Regions from separate parts of the Homo sapiens genome. Here regions 2, 3 and 4 are each linked to region 1. Evidence: fine-mapped expression QTL. A gene starts in region 1. Each other region holds a variant in brackets. All regions are shown on one strand. Distances are from middle to middle.

The links.
Region 2: its variant is fine-mapped to the expression of PLEKHF2 in whole blood (TOPMed, PIP above 0.99).
Region 3: its variant is fine-mapped to the expression of PLEKHF2 in whole blood (INTERVAL, PIP above 0.99).
Region 4: its variant is fine-mapped to the expression of PLEKHF2 in monocytes after Pam3CSK4 (Quach 2016, PIP 0.95).

What each region holds. Positions count from the first base shown.
Region 1 is chr8:95,128,680-95,136,788 of GRCh38, reverse strand. It overlaps PLEKHF2 (pleckstrin homology and FYVE domain containing 2), which reads right to left and starts at 3,004. Exons shown (of 2, transcript NM_024613.4): 1 at 2,759-3,004. RefSeq lists silencers at 2,443-2,602, 2,623-3,262.
Region 2 is chr8:95,179,126-95,187,234 of GRCh38, reverse strand. LOC124901982 (a long non-coding RNA gene) reads right to left here. Exons shown (of 2, transcript XR_007061015.1): 2 at 1-5,223. Among named protein-coding and RNA genes, the nearest start is that of LINC01298, 33 kb to the left of the region's middle. RefSeq lists an enhancer at 5,803-5,902. The variant A/C (reference allele first, on the strand shown) is at 4,726.
Region 3 is chr8:95,208,296-95,216,404 of GRCh38, reverse strand. It overlaps LINC01298 (long intergenic non-protein coding RNA 1298), which reads left to right and starts at 31. Exons shown (of 3, transcript NR_046232.1): 1 at 31-87; 2 at 7,827-7,986. RefSeq lists enhancers at 3,191-3,240, 3,481-3,540. The variant C/T (reference allele first, on the strand shown) is at 3,085.
Region 4 is chr8:95,075,526-95,083,634 of GRCh38, reverse strand. It overlaps a transcript of NDUFAF6 not described here. Among named protein-coding and RNA genes, the nearest start is that of MIR3150BHG, 6.4 kb to the right of the region's middle. The variant C/T (reference allele first, on the strand shown) is at 3,817.

The DNA.
Region 1 (8,109 bases):
ATATTAAGCAGGCAGCTCATGTACAAAGCTGGTTCATCAAAGATAAACAACAACAAAAAAATTTTTCATATACTTTCTATTAAGCAGGGCATTCTAAAAATTCTAAGACAATTCCGGCAAAACAATAATTGATAGAGCTATAATGAGATTTGTTCCAAGAGCTTAAATGTATAAATATGACCTTTAAATTTTTCAAGCATTAACAATATTTCCATCAAGTTCAAATACATTCAATCACACTTAAAATTATGATTATAATCCTTTTGATGATCCATGGCTTCTCTCTCATACATCAGTAATTATACTTTAATCCATTATCTACTTAGAAATTTCATAAATATTCAAGTTCTGTACCCCCAGGCGAAAATTCACTCAGGTACTAAGTTAAATTCTCAACAAAACAACAACAAAACATGTGTGTGTGTGTGTGTGTGTGTGTGTGTGTGTGTGTGTGTATATATAATAAAAACCAATCTGTGGATTTAATGGAGTTGATGGCATGTATTGGGAAAAAGACTACAAAGAAGATTTAACTATGATGCTCATGGAATTTACAATTTCAAAAGAAATTCATGAAGCATATTTACAAGGAACAAACATACGTGTACTCATCCATTCAAACCTTTCCTGAGCATCTGCTATGTTCTTGGCATGCAGGGAATGAAGAGGCAAATCAGACCCGATGTGTTGCCTGCTGTCAAGGAGATGTCATGACAGAATCTATGCGATATTTACAGTAATACCATGGGAGAAATTAATTGATTTCTGGAGAGGGCAAGGGAGTGGAATGAGAGAACAGAGCAGAAAAGGCTTCAAAGAGTATAGGCTTAAGTATTTTTAAGGAAAAAATTTCATCACAAGGATCACCTGTAAATCAGCTCGCTGGGAAATAAGTATTTATACTGAAGAACTAAATTCAAGTCAGAGCAGTGATAAGAGCAAACGAGATGGACAGATTGCTCCAGAAGACTGAGTTATGTATCCTACAAAGTTATGCTACAGGAAAAATGAAAAGGCTTCAGAGTCATAAGATCTCAGTTAAATACCAGTTTGGCTGCTACATTTGTGAAATTAGTTAATTTCATTTCTAAATAAAAAATGTTATAATGCCATTTACTTGACAATGAAGCAAAACTAAAAGAATTTTTAAGAACAACAGAAATTGGCAATACAGCCTGAGCAACATGGCAAAACCTTCTCTCCACAAAATTCAAACAAAAATTAGCCAGGTGTGGTGATGCGCTCCTGTAGTCCTAACTACTCAGGAGGCCGAGGTGGATCACCTGGGCCCCGGGAGTTTGAGGCTGCAGTGAGCGGAGATGACACCACTGCACTCCAGCCTGGGCGACAGACAGAGACCCTGTCTAGGAAAAGGAAAAGGAAGGAAGGAAAAAGAGAAAAAAGGAAAAAGAAATTGACAATCAAATATGAGCAGAAGCTGTATTTTTAGATCTAAAAAGTAAAATTCTCCAAGAATTTGGGGTTTTAGGGCTTACTGTATTTGTGTTTAAGAGCCTTTTCAGTTCATTTAACAGAATTTTAAAGCAAGATGTCTTTATTTAAAAATCATTTAGATTCATTTACTGAGGCTGAATATTTTCTTCTGAAGCTTAGTCACTATACTAGTTTTATTTAGAGGCCGATTACGTGTGCTTTCCAAATAAATAGCTTAATACCATTCATTCCCCGTGTGGTCGGGACCCAAAGAGATTATAATGAAGCCTTCGTTAATACTGAATTAACGTGAAGACCCCACGAGCTGCCAGAGTATTTAAAAAAAGTAAATGCTCAAAACGCGGTAGGCATTCACCCTTAAGAAACTAAAGGGAGGGGAAAAAAACTTCAAACTGTCAAGATCACTTCTTATTCTTAAGAGAACACATGCCTTTAAGACTCTCAAAGTTTCTGTCTAAATCTTTCTTTAATGAGTCTCTTCAGCAACGTACTACACAACACGACAAAGAAGGCATTTATCAACAACGCGTTTTGTGAGTCTATGAATTACCGAGGAGGGCTTAGGTGTCTGTAACCTTCATACCCACTTCCACCGCACACTCAAGTTATTGCTGGAATGTACGGAGAGCACACAAGGCTATTCAAGCAACACCGGCAGCGCGCTCTCGGCCTTCAATCACATTTTTAAAAAGAAAAATAAATTCGTCAAAGGATCATAAAACTTGAAAAGGCTCCAAATAAATAAACCATCGCTTCTATCAGAGCAAGTTCTGCGGGGCCATTTTCGTCTCCCAAGTGACATACAAATATGTAGTTCAGGTCATAAGGTCCCCGACACGCAGACCCTGCAAACTTTTCGGCCAGAAATTTGTCGCGACCCTGAGACGCCCCCGGCCGTGTCCAGGACCCCCGTCCTCAGGCCCCACAACTTCTCGCCCGGCCTCGGGGCTCCTTCCCGCGTCCGCCGGCCCCCGCCCCGCAGACCCGTGGACCGGACCCTACCCGGCGGCCCCCGTCCCCCCGCGGCGGCGGCGGCGTCCTACGGGCGGGCGCGGCTCGCTCCCGGGCTGGCGGGACGGCGGCGGCAACTGGCCCGCGGGCCGGCCCCGGCGCGAGGGGAGCGGCCGGGAGCGCCCCGTTTCTCACAGACCCCAACATGGCGTCGGCCGCCACCGCCCGCGACGACGACACCTCCCGGCGCTGCGACGGCTCCGGGACCGCGGGAGGAAGCGCCCGGAAAGTTTCGCGTCTCCCCTCCCGGCCCGTCAGGAGCCGGCGGACCACCCACCCGGGCTTCACCTACCCCGACGGCCGCGGGCGGCGGCGGCGGCGACAGCGAAGGCGAAGGTCCGATCCTCCTGGTCGCGGACGCAGGGCGCGGACTCTGCCCGTTCCCCGCCGGGGCCTTCCAGGGTGTGTGCTGTCCGCAGCCCCGCGCAGCCGGCGCGATCCAGACGCGGTGGGCGGGCTGGCCGCCAGCGCAGCCGCTCGCAGGTGACTCCCCCGCCCCTCCAGTCGAACCCGACAACGGCTGCCTGGGCTGGCCTCTCCCCTGCGCGCGCACGGGCGCGCCCCCGTCCACACTCCGGGCGCGAGCGCGCGGGCACGAGCACACCCACACCCCTCGCTCCCCGCCCTTTCTTGCCAGTTCCCTCGCCCCGCCCCTCGCGCCCCTCGCGACGCGCTCTAGGGGCGGGGCCTTTGGCGGAGGCCACACCCACTCAGGCCGGCCGCGGGCGGAGCTTGTCCATGTGTGAGGTCGGGACGCGCTCCCGCGACGCGTTGAGGTGCACGTGAGGCGCCTTACCTGACTTTCCTGACTCCGACCAGCCCTTAGAAAGTATTGCTCAACTGTCTACGAAGTTCTTAGGGAGACTGGAATAATAGAAGGAAGACACCTCCCCACCCACAACAGGCCTCCCCGGGGAACTGAAGAACGAGAAAGGCAGGCTTTGGATCTAAATGCCCAAAGGCATCGGTACTGGCATTTGCTGCTCCCATTTAGCACAGCAATCCTTTCCGTCACACTTTCCCTTTGCTTTACCTAAAATCCCTCCTCTTGAAACCAAGGGAACTGCGGCGACACACACATACCCTACGTGCTCCACCCAGCCCTTTCTTTTAAATGCATACTTTAGAATTCTGGTCTTCCCAAAACTTTGACGACACAAAACCCCATCAGCCTACTTCACATACCTAGAAACTGTAATTATTGCATAGTATATAAGGTTAAATGTGCCCTAATTGATCTGATAGCTAAGCGCTCTGATGGGTTCGTAGAGAGGTAACGAAGTTGCTTAGGGTAGACTAGGGATGGGGGCGAAGTAGGGAGAACAGCATACTTATTTTAAACAAAGTGTGTGTGGTGTGTAGGAGGAAATTGGGTTTTGGTAAATTTTATATTTCTTATTCATCTATTACTTCAGTAAGTTGTTTTAACCTGTGTTTGATTGCTGTTGAATTAGAGTCACTACCAGCCAAGCTGCACGTGGATGAGCACCTAGGGATGAGAGCAGACTTGGGTTCCGCCCTGCTCTTCCACCTGGGATCTTCCTCCTCCAGGCTTGTTGCCTCCTATCCTCCCCTATTTCAATAGAGTTTGTCTCTGAAACAAACAAGTCTTTTTTTAAATTAATAATTAGAACAAAATTGGCAAAGATGAACTTTTTTTAAATGGGGAAAATTGTATGATCACACACACACAATCTTTCGTGTGTTAGAGTTGTCTCTAGATGAGTACAGATGTCACCAGGACGCTTGTCCGTACCATCACTCTACCTCATTCACCTCTACGTGCACAGCAATATCTATCAGTGGGGAAAAGGCAGGACTAAATAATGCCTAAAATCCTTTTAAATTTTGAAAGTAGGAATTGCTATGTCTGACTGGTTGTCTAAGGTCAAGCCTAGAGCATTAGTTATCAAATATTTTTGGTCACTCACATTAGTAAAAATGTTTGCCCTCCTCACTTCCCATGTACTTATTTAGCTTAAGTAAAGTGCATAGATAGAAGCCAGAATGACTGTAATCAAACATTGGCTTTGTCTCTAACAACCTTGGCACATCCAAAGATAACTTTGGTTTTTTCACTTGTAAAATGGAGATAATAAAAGTATATCACAGAGTCATTATGCAGATGAAATGAATTAATATATGTAAAGCATATACCTGGCACACAGTGCTTTACAAGTGTGAAATAAAATTATTACATACATAATATACACATTTATATAGTGCTACGTAAGTGTGAAATAAAAGTTGTTACATATGTAATATACCCAGCTACTCAGGAGGCTGAGGCTGGAGGATCACTTGAGGCCAGGAGTTTGAATCCAGCCTGGGCAGCATAGCAAGACCCAGTCACACATACACACAGAATTATATGTATGATATATATAGTGTGTATTTATATACACACATACACCTATTATAATATACCTAGTATGTTAGGTACATTAAAAAACAACATACACACACAAAAAAATCAGAAATAATGATTTTAAATATATATATGTATGTTTTCTTTCTGTACTCTTCATAGTCTATGCCCTCCCTGGGCTGCGTGCACCCCAGTTTGGAGACCGTTGATTTAGATCTGTGCTAACAAATACAGTAGCCACTAACCACATGTCTTAATTAAATGTAAATTTATTTAAATTAAAAATTTAGTTTCTCAGTCACACTGACCACATTTCAAGTGCTTAATAGCCACATGACTATTGGACAGTGCACATATAAAACATTTCCATCATTGCAGAAGTTCTATTGGATAGCACTGACCAATCTGGAACAAAGCAGGGAACTCAAAAGTCACTGAAAGGAAGTAAGATTCACTCCTACCCGAACCTGTAATTGTGGTACCCTGTTCAAGTCAAGTGATAAGACAGCTCTTTGAGCCTCACATCTCAACCGTAAAATGAAGATAAAAATAGGAATTACTGGCCAGACACGTGGCTCACGCCCAGCCCCATCCTCCCACCCGCCCAATTTTTTTTTTTTTTTTTTGAGACAAGAGTCTCACTCTGTGGCCCAGACTGGAATATAGTGGCGTGATCTTGGCTCACTGCAACCTCCACCTCCCAGGTTCAAGTGATTCTTCTGCCTCAGCCTCCCAAGTAGCTGGGATTACAGGCATGTGCCATCATGCCTGGATATGTTTTGTATTTTCTTTTTAGTAGAGACGAGTTTTCACCATGTTAGCCAGGCTGGTCTCAAACTCCTGACCTCAAGTGATCCACCTGCTTCAGCCTCCCAAGGTGTTGGGATTACAGGTGTAAACCACCACACCCGGCCTATAATCCCAGCACTTTGGGAGGTCGAGACAGGAGGATTGCTTGAAGCCAGGAGTTCAAGACCAGCCTGGGGAACATAGTGAGACTGTGTCTCTACAAAACAATTTTTAAATTAGCTGGGCACTTGGAGTCCCATCTCCTCAGGAGGCTGATGTGGAAGGATTCCTTGAGCCCAGGAGGTCAAGGCTGCAGTGCAGTGCAGTGAACAATGATCCAGCCACTGCACTCCAGCCTGAATGATGGAAGGAGACCCTTTCTCTTAAAAAAAAAAAAAAAAAGAAAGAAAAAAAAAGGAACTTCCTCATAAACTGCTGAATGGAGGAAATAAGATAATGTGTAAAGTGTATGACACATTGTTAAAACATAGAGGAACTTGAAAAGATTAGTAAAACTTGAGTTTATATTTCCCCAATTTGTTTTTTTAATTTTTTACATTTGAAAATAAGAGATTGGGTCTTGCTTTGCTGCCCATGCTGGATTCAAACTCCTGGGCTCAAGGGATCCTCCCTCTCAGCCTCTTCAGTAACTGGGATTACAGGCATGCACCACCAAGACTGACTAACCCGATTCTTTAATCCTGAAAGGCAAAAAAGATCACGTTATTGTTCTTGAATCTAACGTGTATCTTGTAAAAGTGAATAGTTTGGTTAAGTTTTAATTGAAAATAGAACATTCAAGAAATGATAGGATGGCAAATACCTGGATTTTAATTACTCCTTGATTTCTTTGTCCCCTCCACTTTTAAAGGCTGGTCTTCTCCCAGTTTTGCCCATCTCAGTAAAACGGCACTGCCATCCACAAACCTGATGAGCCATCATCCTGTCATCCTTTTTCCCATGTCCTCCATCCAATCTCTTTATCTCCAAAATATTGTAGGATCTACCTTCAAAACACTTTATCTCATCTGTTCTCCTCTCCTCCTGGCCCCTCCACACAGGAGCCACACAGGATTGTGTCACTCCCTGAAGAAACATTTCCATGGCTCCCCACAGAGGCTGCCATATAGAATTGTACAGTTGTGGTAGAACAACCCTATGGGAGAGTGCATTCACATTGGAGGCACTGGAAATTTAATATTTATTATGAATATTTTCTGGCAGATTTTAGTGAAATGACTCATTCTAACAAAATTATCTTACAACAATTTTCCAACAAGATGGAAATCTAATTTGCCCAGACATGCCACATAGAATAAGAGCGTTTCTCTTTCACTTAGTACGAAATACCAGCTCATCACCTGGTTCTACAAGACCCAGCACAATCCAGCCCCTGCCATCCCCTCCAACTTAAAATGATGCTACACTCCACCAACTGCCATTCACATTGACCTTCCATCATTTCCTAAAATAAATCAAGCTCAAAAGAGCTGCTGTGGCGCTCACTGCCCTGGACACCTCTCTACCTGGATAGTCACAACTCCACAGTCTCTGCCCTTCACATAGCTGCGGCTCCTTGTCATGTTTCAGTCCTCTGAGAGGCCTTTCCTGGACACTATGTCCTCAGTTACTCTCAGTCACAGCCCTTTGCTTGTTTCCCTCACAGAACTTACAGGTCTCCCTGGAGTCTGAAACCTGCATGAGGCCAGGGACCTCATTGTCCTCTCCTTTCTACCCATAGGCCCCAACAGGAGCATGTGCCAGCTTGTCAGTTGTCAACTCGGCATGATTGCCACCCCCTTCTACATTCTCTTCTGTACCTATAGGGAGACAGCCTAGCACTCTATTTTCCAGAGAACTTACTCTAAATGTTTCCAGGTTAAATTCTGCCAGTGGAGACACATGTATAAGGATTGAAAGGCAGAAGAAAAGCAGAACCCGTCATTCTCCAGTTGCTATGTTCTGAATGTTTGTGTCCCTCTAAAATTCATGTGCTGAAATATAATCACCAATGGGTTGGTTTTAAGAGGTGGGCCTTTGGGATGTGATTAGTTCATAAAGATAGAGCTCTTGTGAATGGGATTAGTGCCCTTAGAGAAGAGACCTGAGAGAGCCTGTGTGCCCTTCCACCACATGAGAACACAGTGAGAAATGTGCCATCTGTAAGGAACAGGCCTTCAGCAGACACCATTTGTTCTGGTTCATTGATCTTGGATTTCCCAGCCTCCAGAACTGTGAGCAATACATTTCTATTGTTTATAAATTACCCAGTCTAAGACATTTTGTTATAGCAGCCCAAATGGACTAAGATACCAGTATAAATTTGAACATGCAGCTCAAATCCTAAGGGGCTATTTTCCTGAACTTCTGGGAAAATATTAGGTACAAAAAACACAAAAAGGCAGGCATGCTGGCTCACACCTATAATCCTACCACTTTGGGAGGCCAAGGCAGGGAGACTGTTTGAGCTCAGGAGTTCAAGACCA
Region 2 (8,109 bases), 50 kb before region 1:
CAAGCTGCCCTCCAGAAAGTCTGAACCAATTACACCCCCAGCAACAGTTTCTTTGAGCCCACTGCTCTCCACACTGACCATACCTGATAACTGAACCTACCATCACCACCAACCTGGCAGCAAATCGTGGACTACATGGTTTTAATCTGTATTCCTTTCATTATGAGTGAGAATGACTATATTTTCACATACTTATTTCTCATTTGTTTTTTCTTCTATGAACTGCCTCTTTATATCTTTTGATCACTTTTTAATTAAATAACTTGTCCTTGTCAAATTAATTTGTAAATTTCTTTTGTATTATAGAGATATTAACCCAATGTCACATGTATGGTTAACATTTTTTTAGTTTATCATTTGTACTTCAACTTTGTTCATTCCCCTTTTTTTGTGTTTTTTTTTTCTTTTTTTGAGACAGAGTCTTGCTCCGTCACCCAGGCTGGAGTGCAGTGGCACCATCTCGGCTCACTGCAAGCTCCGCCTCCCAGGTTCACACCATTCTCCTGCCTCAGCCTCCTGAGTAGCTGCGACTACAGGCGCCCGCCACCACACCCAGCTAATTTTTTGTATTTTTAGTAGAGATGGGGTTTCACCATGTTAGCCAGGATGGCCTCGATCTCCTGACCTCGTGATCTGCCCGCCTTGGCCTCCCAAAGTGCTGGGATTACAGGCGTGAGCCACCGCGCCCGGCCTGTTCATTACTCTTAATATGCAAAAGGACTTTTAGAAAATGTTACTTATGTGAATCTATAAAATATTTTATAGTTGCTTTTTGGTATCATGACTTACGCACTTTAAGGCTAAAAATAATCACCTATATTTTAGCATTTTATGGTTTCATTTTTCATATTTGAATTTTTTATTATCTTCCATTTATTTTGGTATAAAAATATGAGATAAGGATCCAGCTTTATGGTTTTCCTATTAATAAACAGTTGCTCTGGTTGGGCGCGTGGCTCACGCCTGTAATCCCAGCACTTTGGGAGGCCGAGGCAGGCAGATGGCTTGAGCTCAGGAGTTTGAGACCAGCCTGGGCAACATGGCAAAACCCTGCATCTACAAAAAAGGCAAAAATCAGCCAGGCATGGTGGTGTGCGCCTGTAGTCCCAGCTACTTGGGAGGCAGAGGTGGGAGGATCACTTGAGCCCAGGAGGTTGAGGCTACAGTGAGCCAAGCTTATACCACTGAACTCCAGCACGGAGAGAGACCCTGTTTCAAAAACAAACAAACAAAAAAAGACAATTACTCCAAATATTTGAAATGCCCCCTCTATCAGATACTAAATTCTGATATATATATTTATATGCAAATGTACCCACACATATACATGCATACTCACACACTCACTCACTTGGATCTTTCTGAACTAACTTGCTCGATTGACCTGTCTTTTCCTGTATCAGTATCATACACACTTAGTATAGCTTTGTGTTAATATGTGGTAGTCATTCACTACAATGGCAGGCTTAGAACAAAAAATAATAATAATAATAATATTTACTGGGAGGAGTACCTCCATTTTACTTGCCTTTTCCATAATGGTCCTGGCTATTCTCATGCTGAGTTTTAGAATTCACTTGGAATCCCTTAGGGATTCCTTTTGAGATTACATAGGATTTAGAGATCTGTTGGAGAATGTGCCTCTTTCTGACATTGCATCTTCCCATCCAGTAACAAGATTTGTCTCTCAGTTCATTCTAGTCTTACTTCTCTCAGAACTGGTTCATAAAGATTTGATTTGACTTTGTTTTGCTTTTGACTTTGGTTACATGTATTCCTAGGTGTTTTATTTTATTGCTGCTGATGTGAATGGAATATATTTTTCATTTTACTTTTAAGTGGTTTTGCTGATATATAAGAAACTCTAAGTTTTTATGTATTATTTTAAATATATATTAAATATATGATTTTTAAATATTTGTTCTACATATTTTCATATACTTATATATTTATTTTGTACAGTCTATTGAACTATATTATGTCTAAAATTTTTTAGGATTCTCTTTGTAAGCAATCATATTATCTTCAAGTGAAGATAATTTGGCCTCTTTCTTGTCAGTGTTTAGACATCTTGTTTAATTATCTTGCTCGTTGTGTTGACTAGGATTTTTAGAACAAGAAAATAATGATGACACTCATCTTTTTAGACTTTAATGTGACTATGTTTAATTAAACATAATGCTGACTATTAGTTCGAGATTTTTTTAAATCACAGAAATTTTCATATGACTTTTCAGTATCAAGATAATCATACAGGGTTTTTATATAAGGTTGATTATATTAATAGATTTCCAAACATGTTCTAATCTCTACATTCCTGAAATGAATTTCAACTGGTCATGATACATTTCTTAAACCATATTGCTGGATTCTATTGTCAATATTTTGTTTGATATTTTTCATCAAGGTCTATAAGTGAGATTGAGATATAGGGCTTATGTGTGTGCTCTGTGTGCTATTGTTTCTGTCTTGTGCAATTAAAGTGTGTGCCATGTTTTTTTGTTCAGGAAAATGCTTACACTGTAATGTAGATTTAGTATTTGACTTTATATGCATAGCAAAAAAACAAAGGGCATCATAATAGCAACACTGGTTATCTGAGTGGTGGCATTAAAAGTGTTTTTCCTTCAATTCTATAATATCCGAGTGTTATGTTTATAACAAAATGTTTGAAATACATACCATTAAAAGAGGCTCCATAGAAATATATTAGCAGTTATCACTAGGAAGGGGAAATGAGGCACGATATTGACCTTCTTCATCCTCTTGTAAATCTCTTTAGCTATCAGCACTTCCCCCTTCCTGCCCATCTCCCCGCTCTGCTGAACCCAAAATAAAAGTACATATTACATAAAATATAATTCCTTTTTTAAATGCTACAAACTCAAGTCTTCTTAAATCATAATAAGCCAGTACAAACAGATCCAAATGATTCCCAGATACAATGAACAGGAAATTCTGTGGCTACGGAGTACTAGCAAGATAGAGAAGGCTGTTAGCTCTAAACATTGCATTTTCGAAACTAGAGTCAGGTATAAGCCATGCCTTTGCTCCTATGAAAGCAGACTATTTGTCTAGGGATCTAAGCAAAACTAGGAGGTATTGCTTCTATAGAAAGTGAGCATTTTAGGTTGTGTGGAACAAGAAGGATTTTAAACAGCCTACAGCCACACTGATGCACCTGCAGCTTCATGCCACACACCTGCAGCCTCGCACGATGTAGCTGTGTCCTCACACAATGCACCTGAGACCTTACACAATGCACCTGGGACTTCATGCAATGCACTAGGACATAGATAGTGGCATCTTTTTTCCAAAGTTCCCTAAGCACTTTGACTAAACTTCCTTAAGATGTTTTTTAAAATGTTGACATGAGTCATAAAAAGCAAAACTTTTTCTTTCTTGGGCATATTCCACTTTAACCAAATGATAAAGTTATTCCTCAACCGAAGACAAGGGTAAGGCTTGGACTGGGAGTGCTCTCTGGCTCCTGAAGACATTTCATCAGCCCACCAGAGGGCTGCACTGATGATTAAAGGAGAAAAATTAATCGCTCAGTCCGCAAAAGACTATGTTTTTTCCCATCTCTACAGGACATCAGAGCTTGTCCATTCATTGCTGTTGGGCCAACTACAAAAGGTATAACACAACAATTTTTCTTCCCAAGGACTTCACAGTCTGGGCAAGAGACAGATTTTTAAAAGCAATTCCACTGAGATGAGGACTCACAGAAAGACTCGTACAGGGCATGATGAGAGCGCAGAGGATGGGCCCCTACCCAGCTTCTCCAGGAGCCCCTCCCCAGAGGAGCTGGTGCTCAGGCTGAAAAAACACATGGAGATGGTGAGGCCAGGAAGGCCCAATACAGAGCTCAGAACCCCAGCCCTTGGGGGAACTGTGCCCACTGTATTTCCTCAATTCTAAGATGCTGTGGATTATAAACCACATGGTGGACTTCTCAACCATTTAGCCTTGTACCGGCACAACCCCAAGAATGGGCATCTCCTTCCTTTTGCACCCCAGGTATCTCATTCACCTCTCCTGAGTCCTGTCCTTGTTTAAATTATGCATTTTTAAAGGCTTTATGTTTTAAAGCATTTTAGATTCACAGCAAAATTAAGAGGAAGATACAGAGATTTCCCATCTATTCCCTGCCCCAAACACACACAGCCTTCCCATTATTAACACTCCCCGCTCTGCCCCAGAGTGTTACAGTTGTTACAATTGATGAACCTACATTGACACATCATAATTACCTAGTTTACATTAGGGTTCATTCTTGTTGGTGTACTTTCTACGGGTTTGGGCAAATTTATAACGACATGTATCATCCACCGTTATTGTATCATACAGAGTAGTTTTATGGCTCTAAAAATCCTCTGTACTCAACTGTCAATAGCATACATTTATCAAAACACTAATACATCACTTTCTTCTTTAGTATCATAATCAACATTTAAGTCTTAGCCTGCTTTGTATTCTGCATCTGGAGATCCTTGGGAATAATACTGGATCATCAGTAGCTTTGCAAAACATCCTCGGTGGCACACTGCTTTCCATAACCAGGACTTGTGCCCTTGACCTCTAAAATACTTCAAAATATGAGTTCAAGGCCTGCACAAGAATCCTAAGTTTGCCTGCATTTTCTAGTTCCCCTTGAAGTTTCTTCTTTCTTTAGTGGGATTTCACATTACGGAAATTACATGACTTCTCCTGAAAGTCAAC[A/C]GGAAGTTTTTGACAAACTGTCCATTACTCTAACTTTCTGAATTTTGGAAATTCCGGGATCTGTCCTGAGAGATTTGGCCATCTTTACTGCCATCAGTTCCACTGCCTGGTGTGTGCAAGCCATCTTCTGAAATTTCAATGCTACATCATTGTGTGACCTTTTTGAAGATATTAGGTAATAATTAAGATTCTAAATTTAAGTTAAAATGTAGTCATTCAGGCCAGGCGAGGTGGCTCACACCTGTAATCTCAGCAATTTGGGAGGCTGAGGCAGGTGGATTGCTTGACTTCAGGAGTTTGAGACCAGCCTGGGCAACATGGCAAAACCACATCTCTGAAAAAAGACAAAAATTCACCAGGCACAGTGGTGTGTGCCTGTAGTCCCAGCTACTTGGTAGGCAGAGGCAGGAGGATCACTTGAGTCTGGTAGGTCACGGCTGCAGTGAGGTGAGGTGAGATCATGCCACTGCACTCCAGCCTGGATGACAAAGTAAGACCCTGTCAAAAAAACAAAACAAAACAAAACAAAACAGTCATTCAAGATGCTGTCTAAACAAATAACTCAGTGAGGTGCACATGGGATAAGCAGATAAGCCAAGCCAGGCCAAGGTCACAGGTATACAGAGGCCAAGCTTTATTAAAACACACTTATTCCCTGTTCCCTGCCTGGACAGAAAACAGGACACATCAAAATACTGCCACTGTAGATCCCCAAGCCACAAACAAGCCATCAAGCTGCATCTCTGGCTCCCATTGCAATGCCTTGCTGGGGTTAGATGTTCTTTGTCAGTGGCCCGAGCCAACTTCCCTTTGCAAAGCAGTCACACCATGAAGCTGGCGGTACGAGACACCATGTGACCGGGGGCTTGTTTTATTTCCAAGCTGCCACTATCACGAGATCTGCCACTGTTGAATTGCTTCATCTCCTTCATCCCAACTTCGTGCTTTCATGTGAGTGTCACTGTCCTATCCTCCCCATTGTCTGCCAGAGTGCTGAGGAAGAAATGCTCCCTCCAGCTTTGAAGAGTCATTTCAGAAGGCATAGTCCACGGTTCCCCGAAAGCTGAAGGTGGAGGCATTTATAGACACATCCACTTGGCAGAGGGCCTTTGTTGTGGGCGAGGAGGAAGTGGTAACCCCCGGACGGCTGGGCCCCCTCCATGTGACTCGGCTATCACCTGCCATCAGCCAGTTGGCGGGAATGGGATGCAAACCACCATCCTTTGGGGGAGAAGCCAGGATACAACTTCCCGGCTGCAGCCTTATTTTGGTGTCACACTCCAGAGGCCTCCTGGCCGCAACCATAACCCATGTTATCCCAGCGGCTACACTTGGGTACCTCCCAGCATCGCTGGCGTTTCCCTCTTGCTTGTTTGACCTCTTGGAAATGTTCTTAAATACACTCTTGAACCCCAAGCAAGTCACCGAGTCTTGCTCTCTTTGTTTTTCTTTTATTACATGGCAGGGATATCATTAGTGTTAAAATTCTGAGTTTCTATTTCCTTAGAATCTTTCCTGAGATTCTACATTTCCTTAGAATGACCCAGTTTCAATGGTGGAAGGATGTTCGATATCATCTGATTTCCTAAGGGAAAATTTTCACAGGAAAAAGGCTGAAAACTCTATATAAAATTCTTAGAATTGGCAGCATAAATTTTAATGAGGAAGCAGCGCCTTGTGTAGACAGAACTTTCACCAGGAATAGCAAGGCCCCTGACTCTCAGGCTAACTGTGGGGCCGCGAGCTCTCTGCTCCTGTGTTAACTCAACTCACCCAAAAACTAGGAGGTGAGGCAGCCTAGCAGTCAGGAATGTGGGCTTCGGGGTCAGACCAATATGGGTTTAAGACATGGTTCAACCAGTTATAAACCATGTAAACTTGCATGAGTGACTTGACCTTGTTAAGGCCTTGGTTCCTTCATCTGTAAAGTGAGGACATAAGAATTTGCACAAGTTAGTTAACCCCCTTAAGTCTTCGGTTCCTGCAGATGTAGACTGATTGTACCTAACCTCTCTTTCTCTAGCTCTGTCTCTCTTGACTCTCATATAAACACACTTACGCATCTCCTATCTTAAAAATATAAGAAAGGCATCAGCAAATAAACTCCTCTTTGACCTTTGTCCCTCTCTAGCTACTGTCCCATCTCTCTGCATCCCTTCTGTCTAAACATCTGAGGAGAGGGTAGATACTTCCCATTCCTTTATCAGTTTCATCCAAAGACATTATAGCTTTTCACATTGGACTATTTCTAAAATTGGACTGTGTATCTTTTGCACTGGTAACAACTCCAAATTTCAGTGGCTTAAAACACAATGGCGGATTTCCTGCTCATGCAACATGCCTATCACAGTCCACCAGGATTCTGCTCTGTGTCATTCCCAGAAGATTACCAGTGACTGTGGCAGGAGAACAGAGCACCCTGGAGGGTCTCACAACACCCACTAAATGCTCTGGCCCTGGCCCAGAGTGGCACCTGCCACTATTCACAGCTCTTTGGCCAGAACCAACCAGAATTCCCCTGACCCCACCCAACTGTTAAGTGCAACCCCACAGTGCAGTATTTGGCAAACCACACAAATGGTCTTCAGCTACATTATTATAACAGCAAATAGACTGTAGACAATCAGCTGTGTTATAGCTTCAGTATGCTTTTGTGGGCTAGCTTGGAAACCTGACCACTATTCAAAACAGTGTTCCTATGAGAAAACACGTGCCAAAATCCAAGCTGCTGACTTATAAAACAAGCTGGAACACAATCTGTTAGTAAGTTGAGGCTTCTTATACTTAAGAAATTATTTTTGAAACATGGCCCCAGAATTTGACAGGCTGGATTGAATTATTCAGCCATAGCTATGAGATCCAGAACAAGCTACATAATTTGTGGGGCCCAATGGTGGGGAACCTTGTTCAAAAAGCAGGGGGAAAATGCAGTTAAAGTTACTAAAATATAAAGCTTTTTTCTTTCTCCAAAAGTCTCTCTCTTGATTTATCATAGTGATTTTATTTGCTATTTAGGCTGAGCATGGTGGCTAATGCCTGTAATCCCAACACTTTGGGAGGCCAAGGCAGGAGGATCGCTTCAGCCCAGGAGTTCAAGACCAGCCTGGGCAACATAGCAGGATCCTGTCTCAAATATTTTTTAACAAATAATATGATCAAAAAATTGCTATTTATTGTTGTTCTCAGTAAAGGTAAATTTTTAAATGATTAGAATGAACTGTTCTGTTCATTTTTATATTGTGCAATGCCAGGTTTAAATGCAAAGATAAGAGCATCTTACACACTTCCTATTTCAGAGTTGGTACATGCACATGTAGTTAATTCTTTTTAAGAGACAAGGTCTCACTCTGTTGCTCAGACTGGAGTGCAGTGGCACAATTTTGT
Region 3 (8,109 bases), 80 kb before region 1:
CTTCTCTAGGCTTAAAGTACATGTGGAAGGGCGAGCCTCCCAGGATTCTCAAACAGAAGCAGCCTGCCAGGCTGAGCCATCCAGAAGGTGAGAGCTCCACGTGGGGACTGCTGGCTTTCAGTCAGGGGCCTCCACTCTCAACTGAGTCTCCCGTTCCCCCCGTCTGTCCATGGGACCCCTCCTCATCCTTTGTTTTTATTTAGCGTTAAAGTTCCTCTGAGCACTGTGTTGGCTCTCAACTTCTACAATTTTAGCCAGTTCTTTTTTCCTGCCATCATCGAGGTAGTTTTCAGAAGTGTGAGGGTGTGTGCACACTTACATGAACACATACACAGACCGACAAAGACTGTGCTTTGCAATCTCCAAACACAACTAGCAGGCTCCACACCATAAGTGACACTTCCCTCCTAGATAGAGGTGGTGTTGCCACAAGGAATTGTGGATAACAGGGGAGACAGCCTTGGCTGGTCAGGGTGGCGCCAAAACCTCTCTCAACCACAGAAGGTTAAACCCACTTTAAACCAGTGCTTCCTTAACTGCTGAAAAGTTAAGAAGTACCTGATTAAAAATGTAAATTCCAAGAACCCATCTCCAACACCAAAAGCAGAATTTCCCAGAGAGGCCAGGCCGTGTCTTCAAGTGCCCCCAGGTGATTCTTACCAGAGGAAAGCTTTCTCTTTTTCAAAAAACTCAGACACCCCCCACTAGAGATTCCTCTGTTTTCACAGATGGGAGGGAAGGATGGGGAAGGCATAAGACTGGGGAGGGGCCACTAGACTGATGTTTTCCAAACACTTCCCAGAAGGGGTCTGATGTGCAGGAGAGCTTCAGCTGGGCTTTGTAATAATGATTTCTGTGAAGTTTTCTTTCTTCTGAATAAGGTTTTCATCATCATACCTTTTTGAAAAAGCTCTGAGTTATCAAATGCTGTACTATGCACCGATGAGGCATTTCATGCACATGCTGGCATTCAGTCCTCTCAACACTTTTTGTTGGTTCTATTGGTGTCCCCATTTTCCAGATGAGGAAATCAAGACAGGTTAAATCGTTTGCTTCAGGCCACTTGGCTGAGAAGCAGCAAACCTATTTCCAACAAATCCCAGGCCAGCCGCTGAGTGCCACATTGCTGTGCTCAGCCTGCCCGCGAGGGCCCATGGGGACAGGGTTGTTCTGAGAGCTATGGGGCGCTATTGGTCATATCCCAAGGCCAGTTCCCCAGGAGAAAATGGGGATCCTTCCAAAAGTGTGCACAGCTGCTTTGTACTGGCATGGTGGGCTGTGTTGGAAACACCTTTAGGCCAGTAATTCTTAGCTGATGATACATCAGCATCATCTGGGATCTTATTAAAAATGCAGATATCTAGGTCCTAGCCACAGAGATTCAAACTCAGTCTGTCTGGGAGGCAGTTCGGGAATCCACTTTTGTATAATTATAGCCAGTGATTCTGAGGCAAGCAATTGGAGGGGACTGCGCCGAAGAAAAGAAAGAGGAAGTCCTGAGTGAGGAAACCGCCCCCCGCCATCAGGATAAGCACCCCTCTTTGAGGGCAGGGGAGGCTGCATCCTGTATGATATTTTGTCCTTTTCCCCATATCCGGATAGTTTTGCTTCTCCTTTAAGAGAAGCATGTGACACCTCCCATGTCACACTTGCTCTGTGCCATCCTTCTCCATGGCTTCAGGAAGCATTCACCTCAGGAATTCCATAGACCTTTAAATCCAGGCTGTCCCTGGATTTAAAGGCAAAATCCAGGCACTGGTGCGTTTTCTTTAACCTATTGGCTCAAACGGTAGTTTTCTCTGCCTAAATCTCTGTGGGTAACTTATTCACCTCGAGGTGAATAAGTTACAAGTCCTATGCTGCTGTCTGCTGAGCTGCAGCTGGACAGCCCAAAAGCTGGAGAAAGCCCAGCTGCTGAGCTGAGGCTGGGTGGCCTGAGCAGATGTCCAGAGACTGGCAGGCACTGTTCATGCTCCAGAGGTGATATGGCCATGCCCCACACCCACACAGGCCAAGGCTCCAGGCCCCTTGAGAACAGTGGCCCTGCCAGACCCTTTTCTGAGCTGCCTGAGCCAAGTCCAGTGTTAGGGACCTGGTGAGCACTAAATCACAGCATGGAGTGTGACAGCTCCAGTCATGTGGCAGCAGCTGCCAGAGGGCTCTGTGGGCAGGATCAAGGGTGGTGCCGGGTTCCCCAGAAGGGATACTGAGGGTGATTATTGGCATCCTCCTTAGGTGTAGGAGGCACTTGCCTGCCACATGTTTGCCAGCTGTGTTCATTCCCTGGGGCTGCGGCAACAAATTACCACAAACTTGGTGGTTTCCAACCACAGAAATTTATTCTGTCATGGTTCTGGAAGCCAGAAGTCCAAAATTAGCATCACTGAGCCGAAATCAAGGTGTTAGCAGGGCCACACTCCCTCCAAAGCCTCTAGGGGAGAAGATTCCTTGCCTTTTCCAGCTCCTGGGAACCCTAGGCATTCCTAGATTCGTGGCTGTATCACCCCAATCTCTGTCCCCATTTTCCCATGGCCATCTTCCCCATGTGTCACAGTTCCCTCTTCTTTCTCTTATAAAGGCAGTAGATTCAGGCTGGGTGCGGTGGCTCATGTCTGTAATCCCAGCACTTTGGGAGGCTGAGGTGGGCAGATCCCTTGAGCCCAGGAGTTTGAGACCAGCCTGGGCAACATGGTGAAACCCCAACTCTACACAAAATACAAAAATTAGCCAGGCCTGGTGGTGCACACCTGTAGTCCCAGCTGCTCGGGAGGCTAAGGCGGGAGGATCTCTTGAGCTCAGGAGGTGGAGGCTGTGGTGAGCTGAGATGGTGCCACAGCCTGGGCAACAGAGAGACCCTGGATTTAGAACCACCCTAAATCCTAGATGATTTCATCTCGAGATTCTTAACTACATCTGCAGAAGTAGCTCATATTCACAGGTACTGGGACATATTTGGTGGGGGCGGGGGGGGACACAATTCAACCCACTGTGCCAGCCTTGCACTAAATCAACATCAGTGGTTAAGTACTTCCTCTCCCCAACCCCTTCCGCATGCAAATCTTTCAACACCTAATGCCAGTACAC[C/T]TCTGCTTTCACCATGGATGGGCCTGCCTTGGTGTCAGTTTTGCCTCATTGCAGGCCTCCTCTCCAGCCATGAGGACAGCAGGGGATGTGGAGGGCCAAGAGGGACAGAAATCCTCCTGCACCAAAAGGATGATAAAATGAGCACCAAACCAGCTCACCGAGCTGAGTATGCCCAGGGTTGTGCCAGAGTCAGAACCCAGTGCATGCACGGGAGCCAAGGCCATGGTCAGGTGCCCTTGCCCCACCGACTCATGTAGTCCCCTGTGAGCAGCATGTGCTACCAGCAGCTATGCCTCTCCTGCTCAAAGGGCACCCACATCACAAAAGGCAGTTGTGGTATAGACCAGGCTGCAAAGGCCTGCCCTTCAATCCCCCTCCACCATCTTCTGTGCAACCTGGCCTGCTACCACTCATTTCACTTCTCTGAACCTCACTGTAAAATCAGCCTAGTGATAATACCTACAGGCTTAAATCCTTTCTCCAGCCAAGCATCAATAAGTAAATGCATTCTTCCTCACAGCTTTATGGAGCAGGCTAAATAAGTGAGTGTGAAAGCTCCAGGCCCACAGTAGCCATTGCATCAACTTCTTATGTGGAATAAAAAGCATCTGACAACACCGCAGGTGTGTCATTCAGTATTCACTGGCTTTGGACACACTCCTTATCTTTAACCTGCACCTGCACACTGGAAACTCCAAAATCTTTATCTTCCTCCTGCATATCTGACTGCCTGGCCCACCTCCACAGTCAAGCACCTCATCCCCCACCCCTCACCTGCTCCTTCCCCTGTCAGCTGGTTCTAAAGGAGTAACACTGCCAGTCCAAACACCTCACTGTCCCATCACCTTCTCCTTCTCCTTTACCCCCAAATCAGTCACCAAGTGCTATTGATTCTTCTTCCTTAATATTCCTCCAACCTCTTTCCACCTCCTTATGTCCACCTTGTCTTCACATGTTTAAGGCCACATCATTTCTCACCTGACATATTGCAACAGCTTCCCTTCTTAGTCCAGTCCCTAACTTATGTTGACAAGACTGACATTTCTAAGATATGGATCTGATCATCTGCCAGGATGGTATAGAGCCTGTGGGCAAAAGCCCAAATTCCTCAGCAGGGCTGCAAGGCCCCTGTGACTAGCCCAGCCTATCCCTCCAGCTGAATCCCCCCTCCTCCCCCTAAACCACAGCCACACTGAGCCCCACCCTCTCTCATTTCTGCATGACTTTGCTAAGCTGTTGCCTTTGCCTAGAACATTGTTTTATCCATTCCTCATGATTAATGTTATTGACCCTTATTCAACCTCCAAGACTTAGCTCCTTCAGAAGGCCTTCCTCGCCTTCTCTCTCCAGGCTATTATAGCATCTTTTTCTGTGCTTCACACAACATTTACCAAATTATGTCATAAATGCCTATTACTTATCTGTCTGCCTCACAAGCCACATATTCGCATCCCCTGCCCCAGACTGTGAGCTCTTGGAAGTTAGGGACTGTGTCTCTTCTCTCTATATTCCCACCAAGCACCTGGCCCAGTATCTGTCAATAGCCAGTGCCTTGATAAATGTTTGTTTAGTCTTGAATGCCAAGGACAAAGCAACAGGATGTCGCAAGATATAGAGCCTGTGGTTGATTTTTATTTAAAAATACCATGTTATACCATGAACAAAATGTGAGCAACATCCTCAATAATGTTTTGTTGGAACATACCAAAGTGTTCTTCGTGTGGCCATCTCTTCCAAGAGCTTAACATGAAACTCAACATGGTGAAGGGCTTCTGCTAGGAGACTGGGCTAATGTAGTCCTTCATAGAACTTTCTGGGATCAGCATCAATACATACAAGAATCATTGCTTAAAAAAAGTAGTCAAATAGCATACCCTTAGGAAGCCAAGATTTTGATAGGATCTAGATCACTATCAGCTCAAGGTTAAATTTCCTGAGTAGGGCTCAGAGAACATACATCCTGTGTGGTTGGTTAAAGAAGAATCAAGTGTTTGGGATAGCAGGTGTACAGGTGGCATGGTTACATTCTATTTGGAAGGCTGAGCAGCCTGTTAAAGAGATGAGGCCTGCCCTATCTCCACCTGTATGTAGGTCACAACCTCCTTTACAGAAACCCTACACTTCAGTTATGCTGGATATTCACTTTCTCTAAATACATCTTGCACTTTTCCTTACCTCTGACATTTTCTGGAAGGCACCTGAATGCCCTCTCATTCTAATTTTTACTTAGCAAGGCTCTATTTATATGCCAAGGTCCAACTCATTGTGATAGAGTCATGGAGATAATAATCCCTGTTATCTGTTTCGTCCACATTAAATTTTTGGCTGGGCACTTGGCCACCTGGCTATTGACTACATTTCCCCATCTCCTTTGTAATTAGATGTGGCTAAATGACCAAGTTCTGGCCAACAGGATATGTGAGCCACTTCTGGGTCTGGGCCCTAAAGCACCTGTTGTATATTCCTCCATCCTCTCCGCCCAGCCCATAAGCTGGAACACTAATGTGGCAATGACCAAGTTTTAGCCGTAGAGATGAGGCCAACACCCTGTGGAACACCGGAGCAAAGTAACAAGATAGAGCAGAACTGAGTCCCCGAATGACCTTGTGGAGCTGAGCTATCCCAGCAGCCTCAACTGCCACCTACATCCGCACCGTCACAGGAGAGAGAAATACAATTATATTTTAAGATTGATCTTATATAAATCACTGTGTTTTTGGGGTCTCTGCACTTTAACTTAGTTATTTAGACATCATTTCCTCTGGGAAGCTTCCCTAAGAGCTCTGTCTGAAGTCCCGACGTGCGTGTTTGGTGCTAATGCTCTCACCACACTCCACATGGTATCACAGTGACCTCCGTGCATGTTAGTGTGTCCCTAGTGAACTATAAGATTCCTGAGGGCAAAGGCCACACCAGTTTCATTTTTCATATCCCCCAGAGTAATCAGCACAGTGTCCTGTGCATGGAAGTCATATTTGTTGAAGAAATAAGAGAATAAACAGTACTTGCCACTCAAATATTCTTTTCAGAGGTGAAACAAAGATAGCAGCAGCAAAGTCAATACACACCATAGTTAAACAGAAACAAGAGAGAAAGCAGCTGGCAAATAAGAGGTCCAGTGTGCTGAACTGGGGGTGCTAATTCTCCAAAAATAAATGTATTGTGGCAACAAAGCCTGAGGAGACTTAGGGGAAAACACAGATGGTTACTGCAGCCCTGGATCAGAGCCTTCCCTCCACTCAGTGACCCTGTGTCCCTCAGAAGACCCAGGTGGAGGTGGCCACGTGCTCTCAGCACCTGGACTATCACTTCTGCAGACTGGACAACCATGCTGTGGGCACTTGTCCATAGAGCCAGACCTGGAAATACAGTTTCTCAGAGGTACCCGGAGAGGGGCACCAACTGTGTTCTCCCAGGCCATCCCAGAAAAGTGGAAGAAGAGAGCATTTCACAGACCATCAGGAAAACACTCAACCATAAGGGTGTAGGGCCTGGGGCCAGACTGTCGGGTTTGAAACCCAGCTCTGCCGCTTATCAGCTGAGCAAACTTGGATGAGTGACTTCACCTCTCTAAACCTCCATTTCCTCACAGAGATGATAATATTGCCTAGTAGTGAGGTTGTTGCAGGATTGAATTTATACATTAAGGCACGCTTTGTTCCCAAAATGGGTATTTTGAGTACAAAATGGGTATTTTTTACTCAAAATACCCATTTTGGGTAACGCTTTGTGCAATAGAGCAAACAAAATACCAATTTTCCAGGTTTTAAAGAAAGAACCCGAGGCTCAAAAAGATTACATGATTCGCCAGAGGTCCCGGTCAGAGATCAGGCCCCAGGCTCTCCCTCTAAACCGTATGCTATTGGGGAGCTCTGCAGCCTTTACCTGGGTGCTCTCATCCTGGGTCCTGGCCTCAGGAGGGAGCAGCCCCAGGAGGCTGAGAGCCGAGGGTGCTGTAATGCCCCTCTCCTGTTTCAGTGGTTTCTCAGGAATTGAGGGTGAGGAGCCCGATCTCTGCGGGCACCACCTACCTATCGCCCATCCCCAGCAGGCCCCAAGGAGCTGAAACTTCTGTCAGCCTGGGTCTGGGCCAACAGGATGGGACAGGGGGGCACCAGGAAGATGCCTGTATATTTGCTGATAAAAACGGATGAAAATATGTGAGGGGACTTGAAAGGCACGGATGACATTGTGAGCACGTGTTAAAAGAAGGGATGCATGAGGAAGTGTAAAGGAGAACATGGAAAAAGTGCTTGGGCAGGGCCGGAGCACAGGTGCTTCCTGAGGTGTCCTGGCCCTTCAGCTGAGGTAATAGGAATAAAGCCAGGCTCTGTATGAGAGACAGCAAGAGAGAGAGAGAGAGAAAAGCAGAGACACAGATGTGAGTGGTAGACAGAAATAGAGACCCGATGTCAAGGAGACACACAGTGAGAAAAGGAAAGATGGAGGGAGAAGAGAGAAAGAAGGGAAGGGGAAGAGAGGGGCAAGAAGAAAGAGAGAAACAGAGGAGAGAAGAGAGACAGAGAGCCACCTGGCACCCCCAAAGCTGTGGCTGCCTTCACCATGTCTGACTTTCAAAGTGCCATCCCCTTTGCCCCCACAAACAAACAAAAAGAGAACAGCGGCTTCTCTTCCTGAGGAATGTGGTGGAATGTTCTGATCGCTGGGTGCTGACTGGTATCCTCAACCTTGGGTCCTGGCTAAGGACGCCACTCCCCACTTTCCTTTCTCTTCCTGACAAGACCCCCTCCCTCTTCCCTGAGCTCTGTTTCTTCCATGAGGTTGAAGAAAAATGCCGTCGTGGTCCCCTGCCTGCTTACTCAGCGTGTCAAGCAGGAGTTCTCAGCTCCAGTGTGCCATGGAGGGCCTTGGGAAGAGGTCACATACCATTCCCATCCCCAGGTGAGAATCACATAAAAACCAAGGTCCAAGGTCCAAGGTCCAGGCCACACCGCATGCCCACCAAGGGTGGAGAGGCCTGGAAGCTCCTCTGACCCTCAGGGACTCCACCATCTTCCAGGGCCC
Region 4 (8,109 bases), 53 kb after region 1:
TTTGATGGCTATTTTTAAATTAAATTGACTTTCTTTTTAATCCTGCTTATTTTATCCGTTTAAAGTCATTATCTGAGAAAGGGTTCAAAGGTTTTAATAAAGGGAACCATAGCACAGTAAAGCTTAAGAACTGCTGTTCTAGATGAGTAGGCATGTGAAAAGTGCTAAAATTAACATTCAAGAATAATGTGAAAAAGTCTTAGGAAGTATTAAACACATTTAAAGAGCTCAAGAATTAAACAGATGCGGTCCTGATACAAAAATAACTAGATGGATAACTTATAATGATAGCTAGACTGATAAATGCTACAGAATAGCATTCAAAGCTGATCAGGTACAAATAAGAATGTAATGGATGATAAAGACAGAGCCCGTTTAGTGGAGAAAGGAAGAATTATCTACTACATGAAGCTGGGAAAATAGGCTGGCTGTTAGGGATCAAAAAAATTTTAGCATCACCTTACACAATTTACCAAAATTAATTCCATTTAGATTGAAAAGTTAAATGTAAAAACAAAGACAGATAAAACCCTGAAAGAATTCTAAGGAATATGGGTCAAGTGCAGTGGCTCACACCTGTAATCCCAGCACTTTGGGAGGCTGAGACGGGAGGACTGCTAGAGGCCAGGAGCTCGAGACCAGCCTGGGCAATACATACAGACTCTGTCTCTACAAAAAAACAAACAAACAACTCACGTCTGTAATCCCAGCACTTTGGGAGGCCGAGGCGGGGGATCACGAGGTCAGGAGATCGAAACCATCCCGGCTAAAACGGTGAAACCCCGTCTCTACTAAAAAATACAAAAAATTAGCCGGGCGTAGTGGCGGGCGCCTGTAGTCCCAGCTACTTGGGAGGCTGAGGCAGGAGAATGGCGTGAACCCGGGAGGCGGAGCTTGCAGTGAGCCGAGATCCCGCCACTGCACTCCAGCCTGGGCGACAGAGCGAGACTCCGTCTCAAAAAACAAAACAAAACAAAACAAAACAAACAAACAAACAAACAAAAAGAATGCTAAGGAACACATGAACATATGAAAGCTCCTCCCACCCCCGCCCCTACCACAGGAGAGAGATTATTTCATAAAACAGGAAATCCAAACTATTTTCATAAATTCTAGGTATCTGTTTGGAAATCATACAGTGTATTAAGTACCTTCGAGTGATTCTGAACAGAAGGAGATGATTCTGACAGTATGAGAATACAGCTGGGCACCAGGGCCTCTCTATTTACTCCTCACACCCTCCCATCCCAACAGCAGCAGCACAGCACCCACCCCATTTCCTACCATTGCTGCACTATTAGTTTTTCTTTTTTATTTTTTTAATGAGACAGGGTCTCGTCATGTTGCCCAGGCTGGACTCAAACTCCTGGGCTCAAGTGATCCTCCTGCCTCGGCCTCCCAAAGTGCTGGGATTACAGGCATAAGCCACCGCACCCAGCCTAATTCTTTTCTGGTTTCCACCATATGCCTCTTATTCCTCTTACTTCAGTTATTTCTACTAGCTTCAGCTTTGTTTCTCTCTTTTTCAGATTTTAACAACAGGAGTTTTTTTTTTTTTGTTGTTTTTTTTTGAGACGGAGTCTCACTCTGTCACCCAGGCTGGAGTGCAGTGGCGCGATCTCGGCTCACTGCAAGCTCCGCCTCCCGAGTTCACGCCATTCTCCCGCTTCAGCCTCCCATAGCTGGGATTACAGGTGCCCGCCACCACGCCCGGCTAATTTTATTTTTGGATTTTTTAGTACAGATGGGGTTTCACCGTGTTAGCCAGGATGGTCTTGATCTCCTGACCTCATGATCCGCTCGCCTCGGCCTCCCAAAGTGCTGGGATTACAGGCGTGAGCCACCACGCCCGGCCCAACAGGAGTTCTTAAACTAAGATGCATGGATAAAATTCAGGGGTTCTGTGATCTTGGATGGGAAAAACATTATGCTTTTCTTTTTACTAGACTCTCACTGAAATGTAGTATTTTCATTTCTCTCTTCCCTTGATTAATTTCTTTGTATTTGTGCTCTTGAGTATTATCGGAGTCCGTGGGTCATTAAATGTTTTCCTCTACCATCATCCTTCATCATTAAGGCCACCAATCAGCGTATCAGGATAGCTGAGTAAGCTGACAAAGAAGGTGGGCTGGGACCTAGATCTTTAGAATGAGGAATGCAAGACTAGCCAGGCGCGGTGGCTCAGGCCTGTAATCCCAGTACTTCGGGAGGCAGAGGTGGGCAGATCACCTGAGGTCAGGACTTAGGGACCAGCCTGGCCAACATAGCGAAACCCCATCTCTGCTAAGACTACAAAAATTAGTTGGGCATGGTAGTGCACTGTAGTCCCAACGGCTCCAGAGGCTGAGAGGCTGAGGCAGGAGAATTGCTTGAACTTGGGAGGCAGAGGTTATAGTGAGCTGAGATCGCACCACTGCACTCCAGCCTGGGCAACAGAGAAAGACTCCACCTCAAAAAAAAAAAAAAAAAAAAAAAAAAAAAAAAAAAAAAAGATGCAGGACTCAGGACTCCATGTAAACTCCCAAAGGGCGGAACCTGTGCTGACTTTTGTTCACTCTTTTGTTCCCAGAGCCTAAGACAGTGCAGCCATCAACATGCAGGCTCAGTATTTGTAGAAAGGATACATGAAGAAGCTGGAAGATCAGCACTCTGTCCTTGAGTACGAGGCTAGGTGGGCTAACATGGGGTGAGAGCACAGTGGGTGAACTGAGACATATTGGCCCAAGGGTCCAGCATCAAATCCTGGGATAACACAGCTTGGCCCAAAGCTAAGGCTCCGATTGCTGTGCTCAAACAGCTTGCTCCAAGAAAAGAAAATAAGTCATTTGGCCGGGCACAGTGGCTCATGCCTGTAATCTCAGCACTTTGGGAGGCCAAAGTGGGAGGATTGCTTAAGCCCAGGAGTTTGAGACCAGCGGGCAACATGATGAAACCCCATCACTACAAAAAATACACTACAAAAATACACTACAAAAATACACTACCAAAAATCACTACAAAAATACACTACAAAAATACACTACCAAAATACACTACCGAAAATCACTACAAAAATACACTACCAAAATACACTAGAAAAAATCACTACAAAAATACACTACCAAAATACACTACAAAAATACACTACCAAAAATCACTACCAAAAATCACTACAAAAATACACTACAAAAATACACTACAAAAATCACTACAAAAATACACTACAAAAATACACTACAAAAATCACTACAAAAATACACTACCAAAAATCACTACAAAAAATACACTACAAAAATACACTACCAAAAATCACTACAAAAAATACACTACAAAAATACACTACCAAAAAATCACTACAAAAAATACACTACAAAAATACACTACAAAAAATCACTACAAAAAATACACTACAAAAAATCACTACAAAAAATACACTACAAAAATACACTACAAAAAATCACTACAAAAAATACGCTACAAAAATACACTACAAAAAATCACTACAAAAAATACACTACAAAAATACACTACAAAAAAATCACTACAAAAAATACACTACAAAAAATCACTACAAAAAATACGCTACAAAAATACACTACAAAAAATCACTACAAAAAATACGCTACAAAAATACACTACAAAAAATCACTACAAAAAATACACTACAAAAATACACTACAAAAAATCACTACAAAAAATACACTACAAAAATACACTACCAAAAATCACTACAAAAAATACACTACAAAAATACACTACAAAAAATCACTACAAAAAATACAAAATTTAGCCAGGCGTGGTGGTGGGTACCTACTTGGAAAGCTGAGGTGGGAGGAT[C/T]AAGTGAGCCTGGGAGACGGAGGTTGCAATGGGCCGAGATTGCAGCACTGTACTCCAGCCTAGGCGACAAAGCAAGACCCTGTCTCAAAAAAAAAAAAAGTCTAAAAAAATTAAAATGAAGTTATTTCTTCTTCCTTCAAGAATCAGTTTTTATTTTCCTCTATTAAGAGTTTGGTCCTATAGTTTAATTGTTGTCAATAAATTTCCTCCTTCTCTCATCCAGTTTTCTCACTGAATCTTCTTTAGTTCAATGGTTTTCAAACTTTCATCTTTAGAGACTTAGTGATTCCACAAACCTTTGAATGGAATGTCATGGGTACTGAAACTAAAAGAAAACCAAAATCATGGAGCTCTCTGATCAAAGCAACCTCACTTATCTCAGTGATGTACTTAAAAATAAAGACCTGCTATTCTTGGGCATTTACAAAGTAGATTTAGTCTAATAAGATATCCTTAATGTTTTTTATGTATTGCAAATTTTACAAAATATTTTATTTTAAAAAGAATTTATTGCCCCAAACTGGAAGCAATCAAGATGTCCTTCAATAGGGCCAGGTACAGTGGTTCACGGTGGCTCCCAGCACTTTGGGAGGCTGAGGTGGGCGGATCACTTGAGGTTGGGAGTTTGAGACCAGCCTGACCAACATGGAGAAATCCCGTCTCTACTAAAAATACAAAAATTAGCCGGCCATGGTGGCACATGCCTGTAATTCCAGATGCTCGGGAGACTGAGACAGAATTTCTTAAACAGAGGAGATGGAGGTTGCAGTGAGCCAAGATCACACCACTGCAGTCCAGCCTGGTGGATAGAGCAAGACTCCCTCTCAAAAACAAAAACAAAAAAAAAGATGTCCTTCAATAGGTGAGTAGACAAACTGTGGTGCATCCATACAATGGATGCCTGCGTGCATTATTCATCAATAAAAAAGAATGGGCTATCAAGCCACACAAAAACATGGACAAATCTGAACTGCACACTGCAAAGTGAAAGAAACCAGGTTGAGAAGCCTGCAAACTGTATGATTCCATTTATATGACATTCGAAATGATGCAAAACTAGAGAAACAGTAAGCAGATCAGTGATTGCCAGAGGTTCTGGGGAAGAGGGGAAGGCTTGAATAGGTGGAGTACAGGGGATATATATATATATATATATTTTTTTTTTTTTTAACAGAGAAAGGGGCTCACTGTGTCACCCAGGCTGGAATGCAGTGGCACAATCACAGCTCCCTGCAGCCTCAAACTCCTGGGATCAAGCAATCCTCCCCACTGAGCCTCCGGAGTAGCTGGGACTACAGGTGAGTGTGATCATGCCGGGCTAATTTTCTTTTTCTTTTTGTAGAGACAGGGTCTCATTGTGTTGCCCAGGCTGATCTTGAACTTCTGGGCTCAAGCGATCCTCCTGCCCTGGCCTCACAAAGTGCTGGGATCACAAGCATGAGCCACTGCGCCCAGCCTGGGATTTTTTTAAAGGCAGTGAAACTATTCTGCATGATTCTGTGGTGGTGGATACATGACATTATGCATTTGCCAAAACCACAGAAGTTCTCCACACTAAGTTCTCCACACTCAATGCATGCAAGCATATCAGCTGCAGAGCCATGCCTCAGGGGACCGACCCCAGCCAGAACCCTCTGAAACTCTCTCCACTCCAGTGGCCCCATGATGCCTGTGGCCTCCATCTCCACCTTTGATTCTCTCCATGGGCTCCTTTGTCCCAGGCTCACTGTTTAGCCTCTTCTCTGCCTCCTGGGTCTGCTTTATGAGTGGCCTCATATCTGTGGTCCCGTGGCTGCTGTTCACTACCTTCCTTCCGCGGCTCTCAGCTTCTTTTCCTGCTGCTGGCTCCATCTACCAAGGCAGATGTGATTGACTTGGCTGGTCCCTCACCATGAGCTCCATCTCGGGGGGCTGGCCATGCACCTAGACTGGCTTGCCTTTGGCTCATGTAGAAGCAGGATGATGAGATCCACAGCAAGCCCACCCATGCCTAAGAGCTTGCTTCTGGTCACCCTTGCACCCTTGGAGGGACAGGCACTTCTCATGACCTTTACAACCCAGAATAACATCCCCCTGGGAAATGTCCTAACACTACTCCTCGTCTCCCACAACTGAGAGTTCTATGCTTCTCCTGTCATGGTAGAGTAGTGCCCTCTTGTCCAAGGTTTTGCTTTCTGCAGTGTCAGTTACCCATGGTCACCTGCATCTGAAAGTACTAAATGGAAAATCACAGACATAAAGACTTTGTAAGTTTTAAATTGCATGCTGTTCTGAGTTCTGAAATCTGCCATTCGCTCTGTCCTACCTGGGACATGAATCATCCTTTCGTCCAGCATCTCCACGTTGTAGACGTTCCTATCCCTTAGTCACTTAGTTAGTGACTTAGTCATCTCAGTTACCGGATAGAAAAAATATAGTATATATAGGGTTTGGAACTATCCAAGGTTTCAGGCATCCATTGGAAGTCTCGGAACATATTCCCCATGGAGAAGGGGGAATGACTGTGCTTACAAGGCTGTGTTGTTCTTGCTTCTTTTCTTATTTGTCTCCCTCTCCAGACTGTAAGCCCCTTGTATTCATTTACTAAGGCTGCCATAAAAACATGCCACAGGCTGGGTAGTCTAAACAGAAATTTATTCCTCACAGTTGTGGAAGGTAGAAGTCCAAGATCAAGGTATCCCCAGGGTTGATTTTTTCGAAGGCCTCCCTCCTTGGCTTATAGATGGCCATCTTCGCCAGGTGTCTTCACATGTGTGCACGTCTCTGGCTTCATCTCCTCTTCTTATGACATCAGTTATAGTGGATTAGGGCCCACTCATATGATTTCACCTTAATCACTTCTTTAAAGGCCCTGTCTCCACATACGGTCACACTGTGAGGTACTGAGGGTTAGGACCTCAACAAAGGCAAAAACCAGGTGCTATGAATTTTTTTTTTTTTTTTTTGAGACGGAGTTTCGCTCTTGTTGCCCAGGCTGGAGTGCAATGGCACGATCTCGGCTCACCACAAACCCTGCCTCCCGGGTTCAAGCAATTCTCCTGCCTCAGCCTCCCAAGTAGCTGGGATTAGAGGCATGGGCCATCACACATGGCTAATTTTGTATTTTTAGTAGAGACGGGGTTTCTCCATGTTGGTCAGTCTGGTCTCGAACTCCCGACCTCAGGTGATCCACCTGCCTCAGCCTCCCAAAGTGCTGGGACTACAGGCATGAGCCACCGTGCCCGGCCTATGAGTCATTTTATACTCAGCATTCAGGGCCATAACTGGCACACAGTGAGCACTCAATTTTTTAAAAGGAAGAAAAAGACGAAGAGAAAGAACACAGGCAAGAGGGACAGTTCAGGGCAGCTTACACCAAGGTGTGGAAAAGGAGTGAGCAGGACTCATGTAAAGGAAATACAGAGACTGGCACGACCAGGGCAAAGTGTTCATTCTGGAGTGGGAAATGATGTTGATGGCTAAGGTCAGGCCCAATTCTTGAAGCCCTGAGTGCCTGGGTGAGGTGTTTGGAATTTACCCTGTGAGTACCACAGCTGCCCTGAGAGGTCAGGAGCAGAGGAGGAACTTGAGGTAAATTGTATGTGAATATTAGTGAAAAATCTAGCATTGGAGAGCTTCTGCCTAGAGATACGCAATTTTTATTAATAATTCCAGAAAATTGTGAATTGTGTGAGGAAGGAGGGAACTGCCTCTTTCTGGTCAAAGGTTGATTTTTCTAATGATGTCACATTAAGTAAAAAGACCATTGAGACCTCATGTAAAAATTGAGCCCTTTTATGATATAACCAGGGCAATTTCTAGGAGAGGTGAGTCACCACTCTTTAGAGATTTCAAAGCCCCGGAGTCCACCCCACCAGCCTTCTGGGAGATTCCAGCAAAGTGGCTCTCCTTTCCTGATTTTGATTTTGTGTAGTTGCCCAGTCTGGCTCACACTAACATCGACCTGTGTTTGTCAAAGATTCTCCTCTGGTAATTCAAAATAGCGCAAGGAGAAGTGTGTGCGTGTTCGAGTGAAGCAAGATTGGCCTAGAGCTAGTTAAGCAAGAAGGTTTCCAAGCTCAAGTACCTGGAGAAGTGCGCATGCCTAGAACCAGAGTCCTTCAAATCTCTCTCCCAGTTGGCTTCATTTTCCCAGGCTGGCTGGCTGTGCAAGACACACGCCCTGAGTGTCTGCATCCTTAATTTCCTGCAGAGAGGAAAGAGGACACTTATTCACCAAGCCAACTAGAAAATTCTAGGGAAACATTCCCATGCCCCGAGAGATGCTTATGGTTGGCCTGGGGAGGATAAAAT